2 separate regions of the Homo sapiens genome follow, and region 2 is linked to region 1. Evidence: fine-mapped expression QTL. Tissue or cell type: monocytes. Region 1 holds a variant in brackets; the other region holds the start of a gene. All regions are shown on one strand. Distances are between the middles of the regions.

Region 1 (6,074 bases):
TCTAAACAAACAAACAAACAAACAAAACTTTAACAGAAAAAAAAAGCAATGAGGTAGAAGTTTCAGCATACCAAATAACTGGAGACCATTCAAAAGGTTTTGAGATCAGCCTGGGCATCAGGGTGAGACACTAGCTCTAAACAAACAAACAAACAAAACTTTAATAGAAAAGAAAAAGCAATGAGGTAGAAGTTTCAGCATACCAAATAACTGGAGACCATTCAAAAGGCTTGTGGGTTTTTTAAAAACTGTTTTAAAATTCATTCTTCAAAAATGTTCAGACATGACCACGTTGGTTTCATCACAGTGCTTATGAAGTTTCTTCATTTTTCATGTGTCCAAGCAGGCCTGAACACCCCCAACTCCCTCAACCATGACCTTTTACAGAAGCAGACATGGAGGGCTTTGATGCCAACTAATATATGCTTCAAAGTGGACAGAAAGAGATACTATGACCTTAAAAAAATAACCTCTTCTGAGGTTGAAATAAATTATAATGATGCCATCTGATCATAACTCAGTGACCTCATTTGAGGAAAGTTTGATGGGCAGATTCTTCTCTGTTCTTTATTAGCAACATCTGTCAAGAGGCTCGCACAGTTTGAGAATAGCTTCTCACACCTGGCTAATTTTTGTATTTTTTAGTAAAGATGGGGTTTCACCATGTTGGCCAGGCTGGTCTTGAACTCCTGACCTTAGATGATCCTCCCACCTCAGCCTCCCAAAGTGCTGGGATTACAGGCATAAGCCACTGCACCTGGCCCCATTTGTTATTTCTGTCTTTTTAACATTTTCTTTTTTTTTTTCCTGAAAGACAAAGGAAAATATTTAAATAGTTCATGTGAGGGGTATTTGAGGGGTATAAAGGGTTTCCAAAAACACAGGCACATTTCCTTCAGGATGCTAGTTATTCTGGGGAGGGGTGGAAAGGAATGGAATTGGAGAGGGTATGAAAGAACTTCAGTTGTATCTGCAACATTTTTTCTTTTAAAAAAAACGCTGAAGCAAATATTACAAAATGACAACATGTTAAAACTAGGTAGTGGCTGTATGAGTGCTCATTATATAATCCTCTCCTGTTTTTTCTCTACTTAGAACATTTAATAGAAAAAGAAATTCAGAAATAAATTACCAAAAAGACAAACAACAAAACTGAAAAGAATATTCAAAATACGTATGAGAAAAGAATCTATTTTCTTAATATATAAAGACAAATAAATGAGGAAAAGATAAATGACCCAACAGAAAAATCAACTAAGGATATGAATAAAAAATTTACATTAAAATAGTTAATGAAGTTATAAAATAGCCTAAATATGTATGTGTCGCTCCATGTATGTCTCCACGTGTATATATATATATGCACTCACTAAACAAATGCAAATCAAGAAAACAATACTGCTTTTCATTATCGTACTGGCAAACTTTTCTGAAGTTTATCAAACACAGTTTTACCAGCACTAGGAAACGTAGCCTCATGTTTCTGAAAAGAGTATAAATTGCTGTAATAATTCTGGAGGCCAAAAATTTTAAGTGCACATTCTCTTTGAGCACTTTCACTTTTAGGATTTTTTTTTCCTTTTATAGCTGCACAAGTGCACAAAGATATACGTATAAAGGTAATGTTTGTCAAAGTAAAAAATTGAGGAAAAACTAAATTTCTATCAAAGGAAGAGATTAAATTGATGATACATCTAATTTATAGAATTGTATGCAACTATAAAGAAAAAGTGGTAGATCTATATGTTGACAAAGGAAGATGCCCATAATACAACATAAGTTTAAAAGAGCAAGTGGTGGAACTATATATTTAATACAATCCTATTTGCATTAAAAGGCATACATTAGATACATGTTTGCAAACATATGTCTGTAAGAAACAGTGATTATCTCTAGGAGATGAAACCGGAGGTTGAGAATAGGAAAGAAATCTTTTATTTCCTCCTAGACTTTTATTACACCAGATCTTTATGCTGCAAATGACAGAAAACTGAAGCCGCCCTAAGAAATGAATGAATTTATTGGCTCAATTTCAATGAATTCTGTGAGTAGTTTCAGGTTCCTCTTGAATCAGAGCTGCCCAATGTCACTAGGATGCTTCTTCTGGGTGTTGAGTTCATCCTTTGCACATGTGAATGATTCTCTCTGGGGGTGTCTGACAGCCTTGGTTACCTTGATGGCTCCACTCAAGTTAGCTATATGGCGACTATTACCAAGCTTTACCACCTTGCAAAGCTCAAAGGCAAGAATGAATGCCTCTCTTTTCCAGAAGTCTTTATTTATTGGCTCTCAGGCATTCATCAGTTCTTACTGGATTATACGACCATTCTTGAATCAATCTTCATCAATGGTAGTGATTGATTTGTGGTCAATTTCACCTAAACCAAATAACAGAATGGAGTCTGGATGGTTTCCCAAAAGAAGGTGGGATGCTATGCAACAAACAACAGATATTCACTGTTGCTAGATAATGCTTTACCAAGTGCATCACACACACACACACACACACACACACACACACACACACACGTTACAGTCTTCTAGGGCCTAGATTCTGAGCTCCATAGGAAGGGACTGTGTCGGTATCATACATTATCCTGTCCTTTGGGCCTAAGTCAGTTCCTGGTACATGATCAGGAGAATACATGTATTAGCAGAAGAAAAACAAAACAACCTACCTTGCAACTTCACTTCTAAGCATTGGCTACAAATTACAAAAAAAATTAGTTATAGAAAAGTATCATCAAGACTATCATCTACAATATCTTCATCCAAAGTAAATAGAAGAGAGGCTGATGCAGTGAGAGAGTTTTTTTTTAAGGAGAAACACTGATGGCTCTTTCAAACATTTGCTTTTTGTTGATATAAATTATTCAATGCATCATGGAGATTCATTACTATGAACTACTGCAATAATGGTTGAACTCAGCAAATTCTTTTTTTTTTTTTTTTTTGAGATGAAGTTTCGCTGTTGTTGCCCAGGCTGGAGCGCAATGGCACAATCTCAGCTCACCGCAACCTCCGCCCCCCGAGTTCAAGCGATTCTTCTACCTCAGCCTCCCAAGTAGCTGGGATTACAGCCATGCGCCACCACACCCTGCTAATTTTGTATTTTAGTAGAGACAGGGTTTCTCCATGTTGGTCAGGCTGGTCTCGAACTCCTGACCTCAGGTGATCTGCCTGCCTCGGCCTCTCAAAGTGCTGGGATTACAGGCATGAGCCACCACACCTGGCCAGCAAATTCATTTACACAATTATTCAGATAGGAACTTAGGGTCAGGCTAATTTACTTAAAGATTTTTCTTCCTTCTCTTCCCTTTCCCTGAGCCTCCTCTGGGTACTCCTTACACTGGGCCACCATGAACTGCTTCTGCTTGTGCAACTTGCCATATAACTAGGGTCACCAGATAAAATACAGGATGCCCAGTAACATGTGAATTTCAGGTAAACAATGATTTGTTTTTTATTATAAGTATGTCTCAGATATTGCATGAGGATATGCTTATACTAGAAACTTGTTCTTTATCTGAAGTTAACATTCAACTCACAACCCTGAATATTTATTAACTGTAGTTCT[G/CTG]TATTTTTATTTGCTAAATCTGGCAACCTTACACATAATTCTAAGGGCCTATGACAATTTTTAGTTGGCTAAAGGGTAATACCACGGACTTTCCAGACTACAAAATACCTGACTGTTGGAATTTTACTTTTAGATCTGCCTCTTTTATACTTAAAGAGCAATTATAAAGTAAGACCCCGTGTAACCACCACTCAAGTTAAGAAATATGTATATTTTTATTTTATTTTATTTTTATTTTTTTTTTTTTGAGACAGAGTCTCACTCTGTCACCCAGGCTGGAGTGCAGTGGCATGATCTCGGCTCACTGCAACCTCCGCCTCCTCAGTTCAAGCGATTCTTCTGCCTCAGCCTCCCAAGTAGCTGGGACTACAGGCATGTACTACCATGCCCAGCTAATTTTTGTATATTTAGTAGAGACGGGGTTTCACCATATTGGCCAGGCTGTTCTCGAACTCCTGACCTTGTGATCCACCTGCCTTGGCCTCCCAAAGTACTGGGATTACAGGCATGAGCCACCGCGCCAGGCCAGAAATATAGCAATAGAAGGACTATGCGAGTACCTTAGAAGCCATCTGTGTTCCTCTCCTCGGATGGCATCATTCTCCTTCCCCTTAAGGGGTAACCACTATCCTGACTTTTATGATAATCATTCTGTCTGGTGTTTCTTTAGGCTTGCCACCTATATATGCATCCATAAACAATATAGTTCATTTTGACTATTTTTGAACTTTATACAAAAGTTTCTATGTAAGTGATCTTTGTGACTTGTTTCTTTCACCCAACACTGTGTTTATAAAACGTGTCCTTTTTTTTTGAGACGTGGTTTCACTCTGTTGCGCAGGCTGGAGTACTGCAGTATGATTACCGCTTACTGCAGCCTCAACCTCCCAGGCTCAAGTGATCCTACTATCTCAACCTGCAGAGTAGCTGGAACCACAGGCACATGCCACCACACCTGGCTAATTTTTTTTTTTTTTTTTAGAGACAGGGTCTCACTAGGTTGCCCAGGGTGGTCTTAAACTCCTGGGCTCAAGCAATCCTCCCACCTCAGCCACCCAAAGTGTTGGGATTACATGCATGGGCTACCGTGCCTGGCAGTTTATCCATGTCAATGCATGCAGCTGTGGTTCTTTAATTCTTCTTTTGTATAAAAATGTTCCAATATGTGATTGTGCCCATAATTTATTCATCCATTGTACTGTTATGCGCTGATGGTACAGTTTTAACTTAAACTGACAATTTTTTAATGTTTTAAATGTATAGAAATGAGCCCAAATAACTATATCATGTGTAAAATGGGAATAATAAAAGAAAAAATAAAATAATAAAATAACTATCATAAAATAGTTTCATACTATGCAGGAAAATTGCTAATATTTAGTACTCTCTAAAATCTGTTGTTATTGTTTTCATTAATAGGGAAAAATTTAAGATGGCTTATATAAAATGGTTCTCATTTATAGTCATTTAATTTTTTTTTTTTTTTTTTTTTTTTTTTTTGAGACAGAGTCTTGCTCTGTCGCCCAGGCTGGACTGCAATGGCATGATCTCGGCTCACTGCAACCTCTGCCTCCCGGGTTCAAGCGATCCTAGTGCCTCAGCCTACTGACTAGCTGGGATTACAGGCACGCGCCACCACGTCCGGCTAATTTTTGTATTTTTAGTGGAGACGGGGTTTCACCATGTTGGCCAGGCTGGTCTCAAACTCCTGACTCAAGTGATCCGCCCGCTTCGGCCTCCCAAAGTGCTGGGATTGCAGGAGTGAACCACTGTGCCCAGCCTAAATTTTTTTATTGTTGTGCAACATACAAATAATAAAATGAACAAATAAAAATACAGCTTTATGAATTTTTACATATACACCTATGTAATCACCACCCAGATAAAAATGTAGAACATTTCCAGCACCCTCTTAAGATGACTGTCTTACGACGCTTTATTTCCTGTTGCTACCTACTAGAAAGCTGACTGCCTACATTTTTGAACACATGTCTAATACTGGGCCGCATGATGTTGGTTTCTGGGCTTTTGGGTGCCACCATATGGTAAGCCTGCTGTACTGCAATTGATTTCCAAAATAAAAAGTAATAATACAGATTCTGATGTGGTTAACAATGAAAACAGAGGACCTAATATTTCTACTAAAAAAGAAAAAGACTTATCTTCCAAAAGGATAATTTAAGATCATGTACATAATGACATTACATGTTTACAGTTAAATTGATTCTATAATTTTCTACTTGTATATTTAGCATATAAAGAAAAAAATGATTGCAGCCTGGCATTGACATGAGAATACTGATAGAGGCAGGAGGCAGAGAACTCTCCTAGGCAGATAGGGGAGGGTCCCTGGAGAACCCCCGACCCGCCAAGCTCATTGTGCACAGAAGGCTTGCCCAAACATGCCCGCAATGAAAAATTCCGTCCCTTAACACATGCGCAGTAAGGAAATAAATCAATGTGGAGTGGCTCAGACTAAGGACCCGCACGCGCACTG
Region 2 (5,499 bases), 86 kb after region 1:
CATACAATCAAATGTCACAAATCTTCCCACTCTACAGACACTATAGATATGTGAACCCCACCCTGGTGTTTCCAGGATCAGAGAATTTTGAACAGTCAGAGGGGAAAAAAAAAAAACTTCAAAAAATAAACTAAAAGTAGAGAAATACTAGCTGGGTCTCCACATTTGTAAACACCTACAGTAAGCAGTTCAGTGTAGCTTCAGAATAAGGAATTTAAACATGAGTTAGAATACAGACCATTTTAATCGGCTGTTAATTGGTAGCTTTTCCCTTTAACAAAGAGTAGCTATCCGCTGCACTATGCTATTCTAGGCCCACCCAGCAATCAGTCCAGTTGTCTGGGTTCCCAGGAACACTTCTGAAATGTCTGCTCATAAAGGTCCCTGACCTGTGCGCAACCGTCACAGAAGAAGACTACTTCCTGAGCCCCTAGGCACTGCCCTACACTGCTCCTCAAGTAACACAAGAGGCAGTCTACTTCCTGTCCTTGCTGAAACACAGAGCAGGACTTGAGGAAAGCCCATTTGCCAAAGACAAATTCAGTGATGCTAAGTTGGAATAAGGGGAACTGGTCCTTTCCTAGGATTTCTTTCTCATCATAGCTCCCTGGCATCAAGGAAGGTAGAGTTACTTTCTGCTTCTCATGACTGATCTTCCCCCCTACGGAAAAGCTGAACAGTTCAAAAGAGAACACATGACACTTGGTCAATAGCGAACTGGAAGTATACAGCAAGCACAGCCTAGACTGGTTCTTAAGTTACCCACTCAGAATTTAATGAGAAGATCCAGTTCAGGCACCAGACACAAGGAGCTACCCTTGAGTGGGAGCCTGTGTCCCAAACGATCACAGGAAAGAAGAGCTATGTTTGAGATCAGTTACCACAAGTATCAAGTACATAAGTTTACAAGCCACTTGGCATTTAAGGTCAACACGAGATTCTGAAGGCATACTACATGAACAAAGGTCTTGGCTGCAGTTAAGGTTTAGAGTCTGGCTAATGAGGGTTCTATGTAAAAAGGTACCTAAATTATACATGAGACCAGCATTAGCCTCTTGACCTCACTAAGTGAAAAGTCTTTGTAAAGCACCTATGCATATTTGTAGTACAGCGAACTATCATAGTTTAAAGACCGCTTAACAGAGCGAGACACCTATTCTACTTGGACACAGCTAGTTTTCGGGGTCAATCCATCAGGCGGTACTCGTCCTCTTCTGCTTCTTACGTAACTTAGTGAGGCATCCTCCTAGCACTTCTAAGTGCTAAATATTCAAGGACCATCATCAAACTTCTCCCCAGAATCTGGACTAAGTGCTGATTTTAAACATCACCTCTAAATATTATGAATTTAGGAAGTTGCTTAAGTCCCCCAAAGATCAAGGATGGGGTATGATCATCTTTAGAATGAGAGACCCTACCCTAAGGATTGAGAGTCAATGTCTAAAAGGGAGACTATTGTTGTAGAAAAGTAAATGATCATTATTCAACTTTACCTTTTATGGAAACACACAATTTCCTAGTATGAAATGTTTATAAACTTGAGGTAGGCCAGGCGCAGTGGCCCACGCCTATAATCCCAGCACTTTAGGAGGCCGAGGCAGGCGGGTCACCTGAGGTCGGGGGTTCGAGACCAGCCTGACCAACATGGAGGGACCCCCCCCCCCCCACCACCACCACCACGAAAAATACAAAATTAGCCGGGCATGGTGGCGCATGCCTGTAATCCCAGCTACTCGGGAGGCTGAGGCAGGAGAATCGCTTGAACCCGGTAGGCAGAGGTTGCGGTGAGCCGAGATAGTGCCGTTGCACTCCAGCCTGGGCAACAAGAGCGAAACTGCGTCTCAAAAAAAAAAAAAACCTTAGGTAAACAAATCAGAACTTTGGAAGCTGACGAAAGCTTTTTCTTCTCAGGCCCTGTGCCCAAGTAGTTAATTGTATCAGTCTCATTTTCTTCAGAATTAACTGAGCCTTCTCCCATTTCTTCCCCAGAATCCTAGAGACAGCCTGAGTCACTGAGGTCCAGGTGTCCTCATTGCGCAGCAACCCAATTCCCAGAGTCACTTTACAAACATTCCGCAGTCTCTGGAACCCGCATGGCGAACTTGAAGGGTAAGGCTGAAACCTAAGTCCCAGCCTCCACCATGCGTCCCCGACTCCCTGGACCTGAACGCCTACTGCTCAGAGGGCAATCGTTTTAGTGTTTCTATTTGAGCACCCGATAATTCAGAATAAACTCTCAAACATGTTGTGAAAGCCCCCCGGTAGGGCTCTGCACGCTAGGACCAACATTTTGCCACACCCACCATTTCCTGGGCACAGACAGTCTGGGCAGGGAGGGGCATTTGATTCGGAAAAGCTTAGAGTTTGCAGTCTTTGCAAAGCCGGGTCATGCCCACTCAGGCCATGGGGCAAGCACCATTTTCTGTGGGATCAGCAACCAGACAGCGGCTGCAGCCCGGCCGCAGCTGGTCCCGGTGGAAGAACTCATTCGCGCTCCACAGCGAGATCTCCTCCAAGTCCAGCCTCAGCTGATGCTCAAAAGGGGCCGGGCCAGCCAAGCTGTGGGTCCCGGGAGGCGCCCTATGCAGTCCTGGGAAGTCCCTTCGCTCCCCCGCGGCCGTGATCTGGGGAAGGGTGACGGGGCTCCAACCCCAATTAGAGAAACTGGAGCGGCCGTCTGGTTTGCTGAGCGAGCCCCTCCGCCTCCCCTCGCAGCGGGACCTGGTGGGACTGGGGTGACCAGACTGCGGCTCGTCACCGGATGGGGCTTACTCTGGGGCCGCAGAGCGCAGGCGGCGGAGGTGCGACGGCGGCGAAGCCCACGAGGCTCCGCAGAAGGTGGCCCGTGCCGCCCCGGGGACGTGTGTGGGTCTCGTAAGGTGCTGCCAACCTTCCCCGAACGCCAGCGCCCTCGATAATCAAAGGCGACTGCCCCGGGCCCAGATCGCTGCCCGCCGCCCCGCTCCTGGAGGGCAGAGCACAGGCTGTGGGGCTCTCCGCGCGCGCCCCGGCCCGGTCCCGGGGAGCCGAACCCTCTCCGGACCGCGCCCCAAGCAGCGCCCGGGCGCCCTCTCCCCTGCCCGGCCGGAGCCGCGTCCCCCGCGCCCCGCGCAGCTCACCGCTCGTTGGCTGGCTCCGGACGGCTGCTGGCGAGGAGGTGCTGCGGGCGCCGGCGGGGCGGTGGCTCCGAGCCTCAAATACTCCCAGCCCCGCCCGGCCCGCCTCTCCCGAGGCGGGGCGGCGCCCCTGCCCAGCCAGTCCTCTCCCCGGACCAGGCTGGGCGAGCCCCGCGCCGGCCAGACACCCCGAGCCGCCGCCGCAGGGGCGACCAGGAAGCTCCCGACGGGGAGAGCGCGGGCACTGAGGGGCGCGACCTCCGCTGCCACCGTTAGGTTCCGTGGCGCTCCCGGGACCTGGGCTGCGGCCGCGTCTGTCCCCCGCCCTCTCCAGAATCACCTGAGTGAAGAATTCGCTGAGAGGAATTCAATTAATAGGTTGCTTTATTTGTAGAATACAAAACCAAAAATCTTTTCAATGTCTATTCCCTAGGGAACTGACTACAAATTGACTACTTATTCTAGATCAATAGGCCTAGTCTCAAAGCAATTCCCTTATAAAGCAATTAATCAGACAACTCTTTAACACATTTTACACAGGAAATTCACATTATATATATATATACCCTCCTTTTAACTTCACCTTATCTTTTTGTTGGAAGAAAGAGATAAGTATTATTATCTCATTTTTACTGTCAGGGTGCTATAGTCTGAATGTTTATATCCCGCCAAAGTTCATATGTTGAAATCCTAACCCTCACGGTGATGTATTAGGAAGTGGAGGCCTTGGGAAGTGATTAGGTCATAGGGGCAGGGTCCTTATGAATGAGATTGGTGCCCTAATAAAAGAGGCCGGAGAGAGACCCCTTGCCACTTCCACCTTGTGAAGACACAGCCAGAAGGCTCCCTCTGTGAACCAGAAAGCAGGCCCTCACCAGACATCAAATCTGCTGGCCTGGATCTTGGATTTCCCGACCTTCAGAACTGTGGGAAATAAATGTATATTGCCTATAAGCTACCCAGTTTATGATATTTTGTTACAGAAGCCCAAACAGACTAAAAGAGAAAATGATTTACTTATCCAAGCTCACTCATGTCTAGGAACAAAATCCAGAAATCCTGGCTCTTACACTTTACCTGGAAAAGCACCAGGCCAAAGAATCCTTGCAGGTTGGAACAAGGATCTCTGAGGAAAAAAAAAAAAATTAAGGGGGGTAGGGGAAGAATCTTTGCAGGGACTGGCTTATGTAAACTATGGAGAAAACCAGGTATCATCTGGTTCCTAAATAATTCCTGTAGCCCTTATAGTAACCAATTAATAACATAAAGATAAATTATTTCCTGCAGTTTTTCAACTTAGGGAAATGTTCCTGTGAAGGACTCACTTGATGGAATTGAGAAGCTGTCTTGGCATTCTCTAGGATAAACTTGAAAGTGTCTTAGTGGTTGGCACGGTTCCTGCAACATCGTCCCCTCTAGGCTTGCACATAGAAGTCACAGTGTGGCTGGGGATTATTTATGCAAGTTTGAACTCTTATCTGAAGAGGTAGCCTGGCAACCAATTTATTTGAATGGATCACCCATAGTAAATGACTAACCTCTGGGTAGTAAAAAGGTATCACCCAAAGGAATGCCCTTGGTCTCCAGGGAAAATGCTATAAATCTTAAGACTTTGAGTCATGAGGCCTCATGGCCAGGAGTGGTACCCTTAGAGGGTTAGCCATTGGTAATAAGAAAAGTAGATAGCCAAATGAATTGCTGTGGAGGCAAGGGATGAATCACACTCTTGCCTTTTCTTCTGGTCATTTCAGAGATAGACAAAGTTCATGCCCTGGCTACTTAGGGGGCTTGCTTACACCTGATTGTATGATCAGACATGCTTTTGGCTTCCCTTCCTTACTTGTACATCCCCATGAATACTTTGGTGCCAACTTCATGCCCCATAAAGCTAACAAAAGGATCCTGCTATGATCAGGGTGTGCCTGGGAATTTATAATTTGTACACATGCAATAAACGGCTCTTTATTACCCAATCCAAAGTCACATCCCTTTTCTAAGATAAGCGTAAAAAGGAACCCAATAAAATCAATTAAGATATCATTGAGTAACTTCTATGTACAGCTCACTGTGTTATTTGAAATAGGGACAAGGCAAGTGTTAGCCCTCAAACAAAAAGGCTGTCTGGTTTCTACGGATGCAGAGATTGTAAGCCGCTGATAAAAGCAAGGATTCTAAGAGAGGCATCTCCACAGGAGGGAAAGGAGGAAACTTGGGAAAGCAGGTGGCTGTCCAGAAGGTCAGGAGGGAAGCTGCGTGAGAACTTCAGTTAGAGCCAGAAGAGAGTAGGAGATGAAGATGAGAACAAAAAGGGAAAGTCTTTAAGGATAAGCAGAAAAGAGAAAGAAAGACAGTAATTGGAGAAGAAAGCAGAGCCGATTATTTA

Evidence for each region. PIP is the estimated chance that this variant, and not a neighbour inherited with it, causes the effect.
Region 2: it holds the start of LGALS3, and the variant in region 1 is fine-mapped to the expression of LGALS3 in monocytes (TOPMed, PIP 0.98).

The regions. Positions count from the first base shown.
Region 1 is chr14:55,212,785-55,218,858 of GRCh38, reverse strand. LOC107984708 (a long non-coding RNA gene) reads right to left here. Exons shown (of 3, transcript XR_001750768.2): 3 at 1,913-2,378. Among named protein-coding and RNA genes, the nearest start is that of DLGAP5, 24 kb to the right of the region's middle. The variant G/CTG (reference allele first, on the strand shown) is at 3,578.
Region 2 is chr14:55,126,921-55,132,419 of GRCh38, reverse strand. LGALS3 (galectin 3) reads right to left here and starts at 3,168. Exons shown (of 6, transcript NM_002306.4): 1 at 3,120-3,168. RefSeq lists an enhancer at 2,333-2,522 and a silencer at 2,873-3,472.